Linked DNA regions of Homo sapiens: region 2 is linked to region 1. A link means that fine-mapping ties the variant in region 1 to the expression of a gene that starts in the linked region. Tissue or cell type: prefrontal cortex. Region 1 holds a variant in brackets; the other region holds the start of a gene. All regions are shown on one strand. Distances are between the middles of the regions.

The links. PIP is the estimated chance that this variant, and not a neighbour inherited with it, causes the effect.
Region 2: LRIT2 starts here. The variant in region 1 is fine-mapped to the expression of LRIT2 in prefrontal cortex (GTEx, PIP above 0.99). The same link has a PIP of 0.9 or more in anterior cingulate cortex, caudate, cerebral cortex, hippocampus, nucleus accumbens and putamen.

What each region holds. Positions count from the first base shown.
Region 1 is chr10:84,189,477-84,197,580 of GRCh38, reverse strand. It overlaps CDHR1 (cadherin related family member 1), which reads right to left and starts at 3,044. Exons shown (of 17, transcript NM_033100.4): 1 at 2,766-3,044; 2 at 1,992-2,087; 3 at 931-1,076. The coding sequence starts at 2,820. RefSeq lists silencers at 2,829-2,948, 3,019-3,148. The variant G/A (reference allele first, on the strand shown) is at 3,117.
Region 2 is chr10:84,222,118-84,230,221 of GRCh38, reverse strand. It overlaps LRIT2 (leucine rich repeat, Ig-like and transmembrane domains 2), which reads left to right and starts at 4,678. Exons shown (of 3, transcript NM_001017924.5): 1 at 4,678-4,811; 2 at 5,108-5,889; 3 at 7,542-8,104. The coding sequence starts at 4,702.

The sequences.
Region 1 (8,104 bases):
GACTTTTGTGTCCGGGGTTCTTATAAACTCAGAGACCCAGAGGGTCTGTTGGGGCTCCAACAGAAAATACTCTCCTGCCACAGTGAGGCGAGATGTCGACCTTAGTGTGCTCAAGGTCCCATAAAGACTTTTCCTCTTTCTTTTCCCTTTTCTCCCCTTTTCTCTCCACACCTCTCCACATTCCAGGGCTCTGCAGAGGCTCACATCCATGGTGTCTCAGTGCTCCCAGGATATGGTGAGACCTCAATGGGGAAGGGTATCGGATGTTGCCAGATCCCGCGGGTGCCAGGGAGTGGGGTACTGGCAGCACAGTCAGGCTCCACTGCTGTGTCCCCACAGCAGTCCCTGAGACCTCCCTTTCCTTTCTCTACCCTGTCCTGCAGCTAGTGGAGGCTGTCACGAGCTGGCAGCATCCCCACAGCTGAGGTCCAGTTAGCCACACACCAGGCTGCTATGCGGTCTGAAAAAGCCCATGCCCTGTTGCCTGCAAGTTCTCAAGTGTGTAGAGTGGAGGAGCTCTGCCAAACTCAGACTCACTGCCAACCACCCTTTCCAGCCTTGACCTGCTCTGAGTTCCTGTGCCTCTCCCAGGACAGGCTTGAAAAATCACTTTGTGAGGTTTCTTTCAGAAACCTCAAAGTGCAAACGGATTTATTTTTAATGGAACATGCTTAAAAGATTAGCAGGGCTGGCAGGTGCTCGTTAAAGGAGCCCACTCTTCGCTCTGTGTGAAGGAGGAGCATGAAAGTAAAGCCCACTCTGCTGATGGGAAGTGGCCCAGAGATCTCACAGAGTGGATGTGCCTGGGGTGTGCCCCCTCATCCCCTACTCTGTGGAGAGGTTCTAACCAATGTGCTCCAGGGGAACTTCAGCCCACCGAGGTCTGTCTACAGGCAGTGGCCCCGCAGCACTCCCCACACCTCCCCATACCTCTCTGTCCAGCTCTTCAACCAGGGTGATGTTTCCAAAAGTGGGGTCAACAGAAAAGACGCTTCTAGTGCTGGGGTCAAAGCTGATGTGGTAGGAGATGGGGTCTCCCTCAGGGTCTGTCCCATTCAGGGTGTATACGTGAGAGCCTGGAAGGAAACACAGTGGAGAGACATAGAATCTGAGACCCAACTTTTCCTAAAAGTGGCAGATGCTCAGGACCAACGATTCAGCTGTTTATAAAGTGACTATTCAACTCAGTGCCAAAGGTACTGCCCTGAACTTGGTGCTCATTGCTGGCCTCACCCCTGCTGGCTGCTTCCCTCTTTGTATGTTTATTCTTCACAGCGGGTGGTTGTGATGATCAGCCACTTTCCAGATTGTAATCTATAACACGGGTTACAGAGCAGGTGCAGGTCTGCCGTGCCTAACTGTAGTGCCTATGTTCTGCTCAGCCTGGTAATAACTCCTCTCTCAGGATCCAAGATTGAGGGGCTCCTGGGTACAGGGAAGGGGAAATGGGAGCAGCCATTAAGGCAGGAGGGGTGACCCACAGTGCACCACTGTCCCCGATGCCTGGACCTGGTTCTGCAGGGATTTCTGAGCCAGGTGCCTACTTTGCTCTGCTCTCCCTTTTCCCCGGGTTCCCACTACCCACAAAGTGAGGGAGAAGGAGTGTGAAATCTCCCCTTTCTCCTCCCCTCTCTCTGCATATCTCAGCAAGTTGGATGTTCTTAGGCCGTTTTAAAGCCTAGAGACCTGGGGCTCAGGGAGGTAAATACATTTGTTCAAGGTCACACAGCCATAAGGGGCAGCTGTAGCTGCCTGCCTCGCGGGGCGACCCTGTCTGTGGGGGGGAGCCCTGGTCTCCAGGACTGGCCAGACTTAAGTCGCCATGGCAGCAATGACCTTCTTTCCTGCCATTGCCCAGGGGAATTCGGAGAGCAAACAAGGAGCCCCCGGGCGCGCGCAGCAACTTGGGTGGTGCCTGGGGCACTTTGTGTTCTAAGTCTGCCTGCACCCCTCAGGGAGACCTATCGGGAGCAGGTGCCAGGGCTACTCACCTACAGGGGTGTCCTCTGGGAGGCTGAACAGAGCCATGTTTCCGTTGGTGCTGCCGACCCCGTTGTCGAAGAAGTGCGGGGCGAAGTTGGCCTGAGCTGGAAAAAGAACACAGAACAGACGGACACCCAGGCAAAGGACACCCAGACACCAGGAGGGAGCTTCGCACCAGCGCGGTCCCGCGTCAGGCCCAGCTACTGGGCAGGAGGGCGCTCCGCCTCCCCAACCCAAGTGCACCGAGGGACCCCACTGGGGCGCCGCCCAGAGGATGCCCCTGACCCCCACTCCGCCCCCGGTGGGCTCGGGCTTGTCAGGGACACGTAGCATGTGGGCGCTTAGAACCCAGGTAGCAATCCAACCCCTCCTTCATCAATGGGCAGATTGCACCCGCGCTCGGAGAGGGGCAGTGCCCCAGCCCAGCCAAGGTCAAGCCGCGAGTCAGGGCACTATCTCCTGCCCCACGCAGCATCGGAGCTGCCACCAAGCCTACAGCTCTGGTTCCCAGCAAGCGGAGAGCAGCGGGGGTCCGGGCGCCAAACCCTGGGGCCCTAGGATGCCAGCTCTGGAGAAGCGCCCCGGAGCTCCCCACTACTCCGCTACCCCACTCCCCACTACCGAATGGGCCAGGAAGATGGAAGGACTTCTCCGCTCCCGTCCACCAGCCCGAGTCCCACTCTGGAAGTGGTCCAGGACCATGTCCCTCTGGCCACCTGGGTGACGCCAGCGCCCATCTCCCTCGCCATCCACGCGGCCAGCGCGGCCCAGCGGCCACTCACCCAAGCAGAGGCGCAGCAGCCCCAGGGCCAGGGCGGCCCACCGGCAGCGCCTCATGTCTCCGCCGGCGCGGAGTGTCGCCTGCCGCCGCCGAGACCGGGCGCAGGGGCACGGAGCATGCCCTGGGCCCGCGGGGAGGGCAGAGACCACAATGGGGGTAGCGGCGACTGCAGCCGCGGCGGGAGGGGGCACGGGGCGGGAGCGGCGGGTGGCGTGAGGGCGCTAAGAGGATGACACGGCTCGGATCTGCTCCTGCCGGCCGCCTGACGAGACCAATTAGCGGCGCAGAGCGGAGCGACAGGCTCCCAGCCGCGGGCGGGGGCAGGAGGGCGTGACAAGAGGACTCCCCGCCC[G/A]CCACGCCCCCTTTGCCGGCGGCCCCCAGTCCTGGACAGGAGGACACCATGGGGGACAGGAGTGTCTTTCCCCCAAGTTGTCCTGAGGCTTTCCCAGGGTACTTAAGTCCTGGTGGGGCTTGGGCTTCGCAGTTTTCTTTTCTCATCAACTTCCTCTGTGACTTTCAGGGGCTTAGCTGTCTTCTCTGAGCTAAGCATTCCAGAAGAAAAGTTAGTGGAGCGGCCGAGAGGGCCTTGCCTTAGCAGTCTAAGCAGGTTCTATAAGCCGCGTGAGACCAAAGGCAAAGAGAAAGGGTGATGGATGGGCAGCAGATGGTAAGGGGTTATCAGGACCCCCTCTCTGTGATCTCAACCCATTCCTGCCCTGTTCCCCAGGCTGGACCACCTCTCCCAAAGGGTCTGATCTGTGTGGTGGGCAGCAGGGAGGACCCTCAGGTGTCCACCAGGGTGAGAGGCAGTTCTGCTCCCCATTCCCAGTCAGTGCCCAGTCTGGGACCATGAAGGGGCAGCTGACCCACTCTTCAAACCTTCCAAGGAAGAGTGAAGGGCCTGAAGGCAGAGTTAAGCCCCATCTTAGGACAGACTTGCACAGAGCTGGCCAAGATAGATCTGAACTGCCCGAGAGGCACGAGATCTCATTCCTAGAGGGTATTTACACAAAGCAAGGCACTGCTATTGGGGTCCTGGATGCTGATAACTTGAAGACACAGGTAAGCCCAGGAACCTTTTTGGCTGCTGGTAAAGCTCCTTGGGCTTCCTCGTTCTCCTGCTCTGACACTGGAGGGTGCTTGGAAATGCAGCCTGTTTTCCTTTTCCTGGTTGGGCCATTTATGGGGGTACAGGTCACTTCAAGCCCAAGCCAGGCCACTTCCCAGGATGCCCTTGGGTGGATGTGTTCTCAGATAGAGGAGATCCCTCCTCTGTGTGCTCCTGGGAGAGGTCTCCACAGCTGAGGACTCAGCATTCCCCCCCTCCCCCTGCCAGGGGCCTTTGAGGGAACAGAGCACCCCCCATCCCTTGGTCTAGCCCTACATGATCTACTGTGAGCAAGGGTCAGGGATTTGCAGAGAAGAAGGAAGATGAATCAATGGTTTTAGAATGTGCAGCAGTTTTCAGGCCTAATTGGCCGAAACCCTTGTTGAGTCTCCTTAGGCTTGGCTCTTTTGCTGAAAAGACACACTTTAAATTGCACAGATGTTCTGAATCTGCCTCCCAAAGTGCTGGGACAAAGCTAAGGCAAGTATTCTGCAAGTCCCATATAGGGATGTGGAGACTGAGTCTTGCCGTGGATTTCCCAGGAGCCAGAGGCAGAGCCAAGGTTTCCTGGAGTAGATGTCTTGGTGGGCCGAGAAAAGCCAGCTCTCCCTGGGTCCTGTTAGCCCTGCTCCTCACCAATCTAGGGCCGTTGATTTCTCTCTCCTCAGTTCCCTCAGTCAACAGCCATGCACTGGAGAGGGAAGGGGAAGGAGTAGCCTACATGCCATGTGCTGTATGTGTGCTTATGTATATTTGCCCATATTATCTTATTTGACCTGCACTGCTCTCCCAATGTGATTTTCTCTGCTTTGCAGAGGAGGGAGATTTCCTCATTGGCTGTGTACGACCAAGCAAGTGACTTATTCTCTCTGAGGTGCAGAGCTTGGATTCACATACAGTTTGGGTTGGCTCCAAAGAAGGTTCAAACTCTTTTTTTTTTTGAGCTGGAGTCTCACTCGGTCACCCAGGCTGGAGTGCAATGGCGGATCTCAGCTCACTGCAACCTCTGTCTCCTAGGTTCAAGTGATTCTCCTGCCTCAGCCTTTCAAATATTGGCATTACAGGTGCACGCCACCATGCCCAGCAAATTTTTTTTCTTTTTTTTTTTTTTGGTAGAGACGGGGTTTCACCATGTTGGCCAGGCTAGTCTTGAACTCCTGACCTCAGGTGATCCACCCATCTTGGCCTCCCAAAGTGCTGGGATTACAGGCATGAGCCACTGTGCCCGCCTGGTTCAAACCCTTTTCATGGCAGAAGAAGATGATCTTGAATCTACTGAAGCTTCAGCTTCTAGGCCTCTCACTCACACATCACACATTCCTTCCAGAGCCCCAGTTTTGTATTTTACTTTGTATTTTCTTCTTCTTTCTTTTTAGAGATAGGGTGTTATTATGTTGCCCAGGCTGGCCCTGAACTCTAGGGATCAAAAGACTCTCCTGCCTCAGCCTCCTGAGCAGCTGAGAATACAGGCAGCACCATTACATCTGACTTCTATTCTGATGTAGAAGGGTCTGAGAAAGACCCTCCACACCCCCCACTCCAACTCCTGCTGCTTCCTTCAGCTGTTTTAGGTTCAGATCTGCTAGTGTAACCAGCTGCCCAAATTTGCCTGGGACTGAGGGGTTTCCAGGGATGCAGGACTTTCAATGCTAAAACCAGCAAAGCCTAAGGTAACCTGGTATTTGGCGGTCACCCTAGATACAACCCTGTCCTCAAATCACCTAAGGACCTGGGAAAACAGCAGCTCTTTATGGTGGTTCTCACCATGGACCCTGATCTTGACCTTGCAGTATGGAAGGTCTTGGCTTGTCAAGGCTCAGTAGGACTCATCTGCCATGAGACATGGGACCTGACCCTCACTTACAGAGCCTGGGCAGCCTCAGGCACACCAGTCACACTGTCTTCCAAATGCCCGTCACCCCTGAAGGGTGGTGAGCTCCCTGTCTCCTGGGACCTCCTTGCCATGGTACCTGCAGTGCAGTACCACATAGTGTCATCTTAAAGTCAGCTTCTGACAGCTCTTCTTCTGGTGGATTTATGGCAGCTTCTCCAGCTATTGATAAGCGAGAATTGGCGTGTCAGCTGTTAGCCTGGGCATGCATGTGTTGTAAGTCTGCCAATATGCCAACTCAGGCTCACGTGCACATCCATGTCTTTGCCTTTATCTGATCTACCTGAGTGTGCCAACCCACAGTCCCTTGCCCATGTGCATAGACACAAATTCACACAGCTGCTCACAAACATACACAAGAGTTATAGTCCCATTTGTACACACATACACACATATCCAACAATGTGTGAATCCACTCACATCTTATCTCCACGCATAGACACACGTGCATACCTGCACTGACAGCAGTTGGGCCAGGTGACTTCCAGGCTCCATCTGGTACTGAGGATGTGGTGAGCAGCATGTGCCTGCGATTCAGGCTCATTTCCTGACAATATGAGGGGGGAGCCAGGTCGGGTAGACAGTCGCAATAGGTTTCTAGTGCCCTGCTTCTGCCCCAGCAGTCTGAGACAGTGAGGGTGAGACCATTTGACAGACTGACCTCTGTCCTGGTGTGTTGGCATCCTGAGCTGCTCTGTCCAAAGTTTCAACAAAATGATTGCTCACGATAGGAAAGTCCTGGCCCAAGGCAGAGTTTGGTACTGAGCTTGACAGAATAGGGTCAGGGGATCTGAATAGGCTTGGATGTATCAACTGTGTACTGGACATACCCTCTCTAGATACAATTCCGTCAGGTACTGTCCCAGTCCAGGTAAGGTCCTGAAGACTCTCCTCTGCAGGTCTGGGCCAGGATGTCCTCCCCTGGCTGGAAACTGGGAGTCCCGCCCCACTCAGTGAGCTCTGAGGTTAGTAGTTCAGCTGTGGGCTCAGTGTGCCTGGGGAGCCTGGATACCCATCTACTGTGACATGTGGCTTCCCCTGCCCCCTTGCTGTGCCCGGGCCAGGTGTAGAGTGGCTATCTCAGTTTCCTCTGACATGAGGATGGGGTCCCTTTCCTATCTGAGACCTTGCCTATCTCTTTAACTGAGGGACTCTGTGGTGCCACCTGTTTCCTTGTACCCATCTAATAGGTTAGTGGCTCCAGTAACCATTTTGCCCACTCATTCTGACTCCTGGCTTGTATGGGCATTCATACGGGTGGGCAGAGCCTCCTCTAACCCTGACTTTGCCTACAGTAGTCTCCTTTGCTTTCTCAGCCTGCCACATGGCTGAGACTGAGTAGAGGAACACATCAAAGGATCTCTTTCTTCCCAGAAGATTCTTTTTCCTAGCATACCTCTGCCTCCAAGCAGAACTGCTCCCTATTTGGAACCTCAACAGAGCCTTTAAAAGACTTTAGTAGGCCTGACTCGGTGGCTCATGCCTATAATCCCAACACTTTAGGAGGCCGAGGTGGGCAGATCACTTGAGCCCAGGAGTTTAAGACCAGCCTGGGAAACACCGTGAAAACCTGTCTCTACAAAAAAAAAAAAAAAAAAAAAAAAAAAAAAAAAAAAAATTAGCTGGGTGTGATGGCATACACCTGTAGTCCCAGCTACTTGGGAGGCTGAGGTGTAGTCCCAGCTACTTGGGAGGCTGAGGTGAGAGGATTGCTTGAATCTGAGAGGTTGAGGCTGCAGTGAGCCATGATTGCACCACTGCACTCCAGAGTGAGCGCAGTGAGACCTTGTCTAAAAAAAAAGTCTTTTGTGCAGTCTGCTTTTGTGTCTCCCCTAGAAGGCTGTGCACCAGGGAAGAGGCTGAGTTTCATTCATAGTTTGCTTCAGCATTAGCATAGGGTCTGGCACAAAATAGGTCCTCAATGGGTAATTATTGACTGGCTGAACGAATAGAGGAATATATATATATTTTTGTTTGTTTGTTTGTTTGTTTGTTTTGAGACGAAGTCTGGCTCTGCACCCAGGCAGGAGTGCAGTGGCATGATCTCTGCTCACTGCAACCTCCGCCTCCCAAGTTCAAGTGATTCTCCTGCCTCTGCCTCCTGAGTAACTGTGTGCCACCATGGCCGGCTAGTTTTTTTGTATTTTTAGTAGAGATTGGGTTTTGCCATGTTGGCCAGGCTGGTCTTGAACTCCTGACCTCAGGTGATCCGCCTGCCTCAGCCTCCCAAAGTGCTGGGATTAAACGGGTGAGCCACTGCGCCCGGCCAAATAGAGGAATATTGAATGAATGAATGAAGAGGCATCTGACAATGTCATAAGCCTTGGTTCCCGGTCATGGC
Region 2 (8,104 bases), 33 kb before region 1:
CTGCAATGTGGTCTACAGAAGGTTCACTATAGAAATCAACTTTTTAAAAATCACTGAAACCTGGGATCAGAACCATGAGAGCACCCATGCACATGAGCATGGAATTTCCATTCTTGGATATCTTCTGCCACCACCTGGAGGGTGCACCTGACTATAACTTGTGGACCATAGACATTGGTAAGAGAGGCTGTTTTGTTGTAAGATGACAAAGACACTGTGTACATTGGGAGCCAGCAAACTTTTTTCCTGTAAAGAAAGGCAAATAGTAAATATTTTAGGCTCTGTTGCTACTACTTAACTCTGCTGATGGGATGCAAAAGCAGCCATAGACAATATGTAAATTAGTGGGTATGGATGTCTTCCAATAAGACACTTTTTACAAAAACAGGTGACAGGCTGGGTTTGACCCTGAGATTGTAGTTTGTTTACCCCTTATGAAAATTTAGAAAGATATTTCTGGTGAGTTTTGGAGACCCAAGACTCAATTCTGACTCTTTGATAAATGAGAGTGATAGACACCCCCAAAATTAGGACAAATGTAAATGCAGTAGATGAAAGCAGTCATCTGTTGAAGTGATCAGGATGTTGCCTTTAAATGATGGTCTGAACCAATCATGATGGGACAGTTATTGACCTAAAGACAAGTAACATTTAGCCAGTTTTATTGAGTCTTGTTTGAAGAAAAATCAGGAACTTAAAAGCAAGAAATCTGTAGTATTTATCTGATGTTAACAGAGACAGAAAGAGAGAGAGAGAATTCAATCTTGCCAATGATCCAATGGTTTATTGGGACCTATTTTCATGGTCTGGATGGAAAGGCCTCTGATATGGTTTGACTGTGTCCCCACCCAAATCTCACCTTGAATTGTAATAACCCCCATGAATCAAGGGTGGGGCCAGGTGGAGATCATTGAATCACGGGGGCAGTTTCCCCCATACTGTTCTCGTGGTAATGAATAAGTCGCATGAGATTTGATGGTTTTATAAATGGAAGTACCCCTGCACAAATCCTTTTGCCTGATGTCATGTAAGACATGCCTTCGCTCCTCCTTGCCTTCTGCCATGATTGTGAGGTCTGCCCAGCCATGTGGAACTGTGAGTCCACTAAACCTCTTTTTCTTTATAAATTACCCAGTCTTGGGTATGTGTTTACCAGCAGTGTGAAAATGGACTAATACAGCCTCCAAGATGATAAGCCTCCCAAAACTCATCTGTCAACCTTCCTTTGTGTATCCTGTCTTCCCTGGTTTGCCCTTGTAGAGAAGAATCATCCTGGATTACGCTCATGAATATTCAAGTCATGGGAAGAAACACATTCTTATTGTAAAAAATAAAATGATGTCTGGCTTACCTTAGTCTTTTAGTATGTGAGTCTGATGAGTATGAGTTAGTCCCTGAAAATTGAATGCCCTCTGAGTATCCTGGCAAAAGAATTTCTGGCCTTCCAATGCTGAAGACCAATTTGGGCCATGGCGAGGCTGCAGCATAGCTGGCCTTGGAAGCCTGGTTTGTAGGTTGGTTGGAATCATAGCATCTTCATGATGTCTTTTGATGACTGCAACATGGTTTTATTCCTCATGATTAAGCAGAGAATATGTCCAAGGTCACTTGCCCATTGAAGTTGCTGGGTACAAAAAGGCAAATACAGAAATTGTGCTCTGGAAAGTGGATGTGGGCTATCAAACCTAGGCTATCAATCGAGGGATTCAGTGAGCAGTTTGTCTAGAGGACAAGAGCTGGAAATTTTTGTCTTAATTATCATATAATCTAACAAAGGCAAAAATCAACATACAAGTACCTGAGCATATTTATTCACAAGGGCATTGTAGTTAGGATAGGTTAGATTTATGCTTAGGCAACCATTCCCAAATTTCCATGGCTTAACACGGAAAAATGTATTCCTGTTCCACAGACTCTACTTAAGTTTGGGAAATACAGAAGGAGGGAGGGCTCTGCTTCACTAATTTACTCAAGGACATGGCTGGGAAGACTCCACCATTTGGAATGTCAGTGGTTGCCACAACAAGGAAAAAGATAAATTGGAAGATCATGTTAGGGCTTTTCAAACCTCATTTCTTGTAACATTTCATTAGCTAGATCAAGAGTCTTGTAGCCCACCTATTTCAAGGAGGCTTGGAAAGGTCTTTTGTGTCTCTGCCACAGGCATACCTAAGAGCGTGGGTAGCTGAGGCAGCATCTCAGACATGCTGGCAGCAGACGATGGGGGTGGGAAAGAGTCCTAGCTTCAGAGAAACGGAGTACAGCGTGTCTGCTCCCTGATAGGATGCCCTGTTCTCTGTCTGAGGTAGCCCAGTGTTTTACTAATATTGGGAAGGTGAGTGGCATTTTCCAATTGAATAGATAGGACACTCTCCTATTAAGATTCTATTAAGACAAGCCAGGGAGCTGCCTCCCTGCAGCCATTTATATCTAAGCATTTCACAAACACAGAGTAATTCCTCCCCCATGACTCTGTCTCTATGGAGAATTTTAAGACCCTAGTTCTGAAAAGCATCCTGCAAGAGGGAAGATGGGTTGTAATATTTCCAGACCCTCTTGCCATTGTTGTTAGGGTCTCTTGAGTTTAGGGACTACACTGAACCACAGGTTGTTTAACATAAATAACTTGACCCATGCTAACTTCAATTATCCTGGTCTCCTGCCTCAATTTCCAAGAGAGCCACTCCCTCTGTTCATATGCCAAATAAGGAAACCAGAGAATGAGGGGGTCAGGAAAGGAGTGGGGGGCAGTAGAGAAGTGGCCTAGATGATTCTAGAGATAGCATGCCAGTGGGTGTGCTTCACAAGCTTCCCGCAAACTTCTTGAAAGTTGGATGGAGCTGGATTCATTTGAAAAGGCTGGCATGAGATGGACAGAGAGGAAATTGTGGGGGAATGGAGGACTCTTAAGATCTTTATCCTTTGGGGTAAGGGGAGAGAAAGGAATCCACTAGTGGTTTGGAATAGTCATGAATTAAATCACATATTTCCATGAAACAAGCCTGACAAAGCCTTAGCAAAGCTGGTAGGGGACTCTGGAGTGATAATTGCTCATCAGAGTTTTCCCCCATCAGGGCAAACTGGCCAGGCCCTCACCACCCTCAGTCACTGAATGTGGGATGTGGCTGCTTTGGGAAGGACGTGACCTCATGCAAGCACTCCTTGCAGCTGAGCATCCACTTATACCTTGAAGGGGGATCTAGGAAGCACATAGCCATATGTATGACAAACTTTGTGCCGATAGCTCTCTCTTTGTTTTGGATTTTTACCTTTAGACAAACACAGTGGTCCCCCCAGGTTTTAGAGTTAGACTGTTTGGAAACTCCTGCAAATATTTCTGGCTTGGATGGAAAGCCTGGAGTGTAATCAGCTTAGCTGGTGACCCATTTCCCCCCTCACTGGTTAGCTAAGCGGATTTTCTTTCCTGAGGCCTTTTGTAGGGTACAATGTATATCATGAGTCTTAAAGGAACTCATGGAATTTCAATATTCAACTGGAAGTGCCCTAGTTAATAGAGATGTAGACTTTTCGGATCTTAAAGAGTTTGTCAGTGGGAGGAGGATTAATGGGCACCAACTGTGTGCTAGGTGTTGTATTTAACATAATCTCAAACTTTTCTAAAAATATGGCTGGATGCAATGGCTTGCACCTGTAATCCCAGTTACTTGGGAGGCTGAGAAGTTTGAGACCAGCCTGGGCAACAGAGTGAGACCCTGTCTCTGAAAAAATACAAAAATTAAAAAATAATGAGAAATAAATTCCTGGAAACACTATGAGGTATTTGTTAATATTCTCATGATACAGAAAAGACTCACAGAGATTAAATTACATTCCAAAGATCTCAAGATTCAGAAGCACAAACAAGAGAGAAGACTCCTTGGGACAGGGTCTATAATAGGTTTGCCCTTGACCCTGTTCCTTTCATTGGGCAAGAGTATAGCTTAAAGCAAATGACCAGTAAATATTTGTGGAATAAATGAAGAGTGAAAGAGCAAGCATATAAAATTGTATACATCTCTTTTTAAAATGTAGGTTGCCCATTTTGATGAAGTGAAATGCACAGTATTAAGGAAAGGTTGTGAAGTCCAAGAAAACAATCTTTTGGTTTAATCAGAAAATACCATCTTGTATTTGAAACTGGTGACCCAAGCTGCAGAAGCAGCTGTCTTGATGCAGTAGGAGCATGACTACACCACCCGTGGTGTTGGGAAGAGAACAAATGATAGGAATGAACACAGAATTACTTTGTTACTCATCACCTATTTTCACTTTGAGAAAATGATTGGAAATTCTAGGTTTCAGGAATCAACTGCAAATGATGAAGCATTAGATGGATTCTGGCCACATCCCCTGAACAGTGGTGCTCAGAATAGCACTGCCTGCTTGTTTCTCAGACTTCTGTTTAAGACTCTAAGAAATGTAGAATCTGTATGGAATTGGACATCTGACTTGGAGTTTGCTTTTCAGACTCAAGAATTACACAAATGTTGAATTTCCTGACCCTAGTTAAGAGACATTGATCCCCCTTCGTGTGTTCTGACTGAACTTGTGGTCTGGGCTGTAACAGACCTCAGAGCTCCCATGGGCTTTCCTGCTGCTGTGTGACTTACATCATCATGGATTACCAATAATAGGATTTGCCACTCGGAAGCTGGGGCGATACTTATTCAAAACTCACAACGTATTTTCTTACAGAGAAATATGGCTTCAGTTTTTCATTACTTCCTGTTAGTTCTGGTCTTTCTGGATACACACGCAGCTCAGCCTTTCTGTCTGCCAGGATGCACTTGCTCAGAGGAGAGTTTTGGCAGGTGCGCTCTGCTGGCCAGATGTTAGAGGGTTATGGGGAATGGGTTTTCTTTGGGGATGATGTGGAGTGGAAGCAGGCTTAGAATTGGCAGGAAATCAGCAAAACTCTATGAGACTCATTCTAGTTGGGACTGAACTTTGCTGAACTGTGCATTTTTACCAAAATGAGTCTAACTCTTTTATTTCAATGAATAATAATATTTTTATTCTGATTCACATGTCTAATGCCAGGATCAGCCTGACCCCACTTTTCAGTCCCCTGTTGTTTATCTTAAAGCTGTTCTGGTTTCTTGTACAGGACTCTGCAGTGCACATCTGTCTCCTTGGGAAAGATCCCTGGGAACCTTTCTGAAGAGTTCAAGCAAGTGAGAATTGAAAATTCACCCTTATTTGAGATGCCCCAAGGGTCTTTCATCAACATGAGCACCTTGGAATACCTCTGGCTCAATTTTAACAATATCAGTGTGATCCACCTAGGAGCCCTGGAACACCTGCCAGAACTGAGGGAGCTGAGACTGGAGGGGAACAAGCTCTGCTCAGTACCATGGACAGCGTTCCGTGCCACCCCTCTCCTGAGGGTCTTGGATCTCAAACGCAACAAGATTGATGCACTCCCTGAGCTGGCTCTTCAATTCTTGGTCAGCCTGACCTACCTTGACCTATCCTCCAATAGGCTTACAGTTGTATCCAAGAGTGTCTTCCTGAACTGGCCAGCCTACCAGAAATGCCGGCAGCCTGACTGTGGGGCTGAGATTCTCTCCAGCCTGGTGGTGGCCCTGCATGACAACCCCTGGGTATGTGACTGTCGCCTAAGGGGGCTTGTCCAGTTTGTCAAGTCCATTACCCTCCCAGTCATCCTGGTGAATTCCTACCTGATATGTCAGGGCCCTCTGTCCAAGGCAGGGCAGCTTTTTCATGAAACTGAGCTTAGTGCTTGCATGAAGCCACAGATCTCAACCCCCAGTGCCAATATCACCATCCGGGCAGGACAGAATGTGACCCTGCGATGCTTGGCACAGGCCAGCCCCTCACCATCCATTGCATGGACTTATCCCCTGAGTATGTGGAGAGAATTTGATGGTAAGCCACATGCACCCTCTCAGTGTATCTGGAGGGAATGGAGAGGTCTGTAGCAAACCCATCCTCATTAGAGAGATTCAAAGCTGGGTCAGTCACGAAGGGTGGGTGCAAGTAAGATTGGGATAGCCCTGAATTATGCTCACTAGAACAGAAAAGATTTCAAGGTAGTGTTCCACTATTGGCATTATTTTAAATGTTTGCATACAGATCTCTTTGCATACAGAACATATACACATATATAAACACATATTTCAGGGCTAATTTAATATCTTATGCAAATATTATAAAATTTTATATGAGCAGATATAGTCTTTGGGAATCTTCTAGATGCAAAACACTGGACTATGTATTTTAGAATTCTAGAATTTTTTACTAGGATTGATTTTAGAGATGATCTATTAGTTATTTCCTTAACTTGCCTGAGCAGAATCACCTGGGGTGCTTGTTTGAAATAACACTGACATAAAATTGTTCAGACCTTATTGGCTTGAATTTGTAATACTGGGACCCAGGGAAAGGAAGTGACCTCTGTGGGCCCTGGGGCTGGAATTCAAACCTGCCTCTTCCTTCCTGGAACCCTCTGCTCTGTTTTCATACCTCAGCTGGGATTACCTTTAATGCTACTCTGTAGGGTTGGGCATATCACAAAGCCGGGGATGGCCTCCCTGGGGGTATCCCAAAGCTGAAAAGAAAAATCTTCGTACATTCCTCGTGTCCTGTCTTCTGTTCTCTGTCTAGAAGACAACTAGGAATAGCTGGGTAAAACTTGGGAAATATAGTCATTTGCCCAGGTATTTGTTATACATTATGACAAAACTCTGGATGGTTTAAAAATACCCAATTAACTGAATTTTCACATTCTGTATTGTTTTGATAATACCTTATTGGTTTGGCATTCAATATCAATGAAAGAAAATTATAGGATTTATTGTTGTAGCCTCTTTGAAAACCAAGAAATGCATACAGGTGTTGTCTTTCGTGGTGTTCTATAATCACTGTTTGGCAACGTGTTATATAATCTCTCAGTAAAAATATAAGCATTGAACACTTACTTTCAAACTAATGAGGTAGGTGATTGCTTATCATCCCATTTTATTGACAAGAAAATTGTCAAGAGAATTTAAGCAACTTGCCCAGTACCACACTGGATAGGAGCTCCATTAGGGATAGCAGCCCAGGCATGTGGCTCCAGGCTCTGAGGAACTGTGCATCTGGAAGGTAAGAAGGCACTTCCTGAAGCTCATAATATCGTACAATCACATAGTTGCAAGAACTCTCCTGAAAGCCATGGCTCAGCAAGGCGAAGGTGGTTTGGTGGGTGCAGTTAGTGAAGTTGAAAGAGTATGGTCTTCATAGATTGAAGAGCCAGGTCCCATATCAATTGTTGCTTCTGAACAACTCTCACTACGGGCAAGTTGATGGATTGCTCCAATCCTCAATATCCTATGTGTAAAGATCAGTTATTTATCTTACAGGATTGCTGGGAGGCAAACACCTGACACCAGGTACGAGGTTCATAAGAGGTTACCACCATCTTCTAACAACAACAATAACAAAAAACAAAGCAAAACAAAACAAAACTGGCATTGCTAGACACTTTCCAGCAGTCTATCAGATAAATGCACAGCTGTTTTGTTTTTCTTTCCACCCAGTGTTGACATCTTCTACTGGAGAAGACACTGCTCTGTCAGAGCTGGCCATACCTGCTGCCCACCTGGTAGACAGTGGTAATTACACCTGCATGGCCTCCAACTCCATTGGCAAGAGCAACCTTGTAATCTCTCTCCATGTCCAGCCTGCCCAGGCCCTACATGCACCTGATTCTCTTTCCATCCCCTCGGAGGGCAATGCCTACATTGACCTGCGGGTTGTCAAGCAGACAGTGCATGGGATTTTGCTGGAGTGGCTTGCAGTGGCTGACACCTCTAAGGAGGAGTGGTTCACCCTCTACATTGCATCGGATGAAGCCTTCAGGAAGGAGGTGGTTCACATTGGCCCCGGAATCAATACTTATGCTGTGGATGACCTCCTTCCTGGCACAAAATATGAGGCCTGCCTCAGCCTAGAGGGCCAGCCTCCACACCAGGGCCAGTGTGTAGCTTTTGTAACAGGCAGAGATGCTGGTGGGCTAGAGGCACGTGAGCACCTCCTGCATGTCACAGTGGTCCTGTGTGTGGTGCTGCTTGCAGTGCCTGTGGGCGCCTATGCCTGGGCA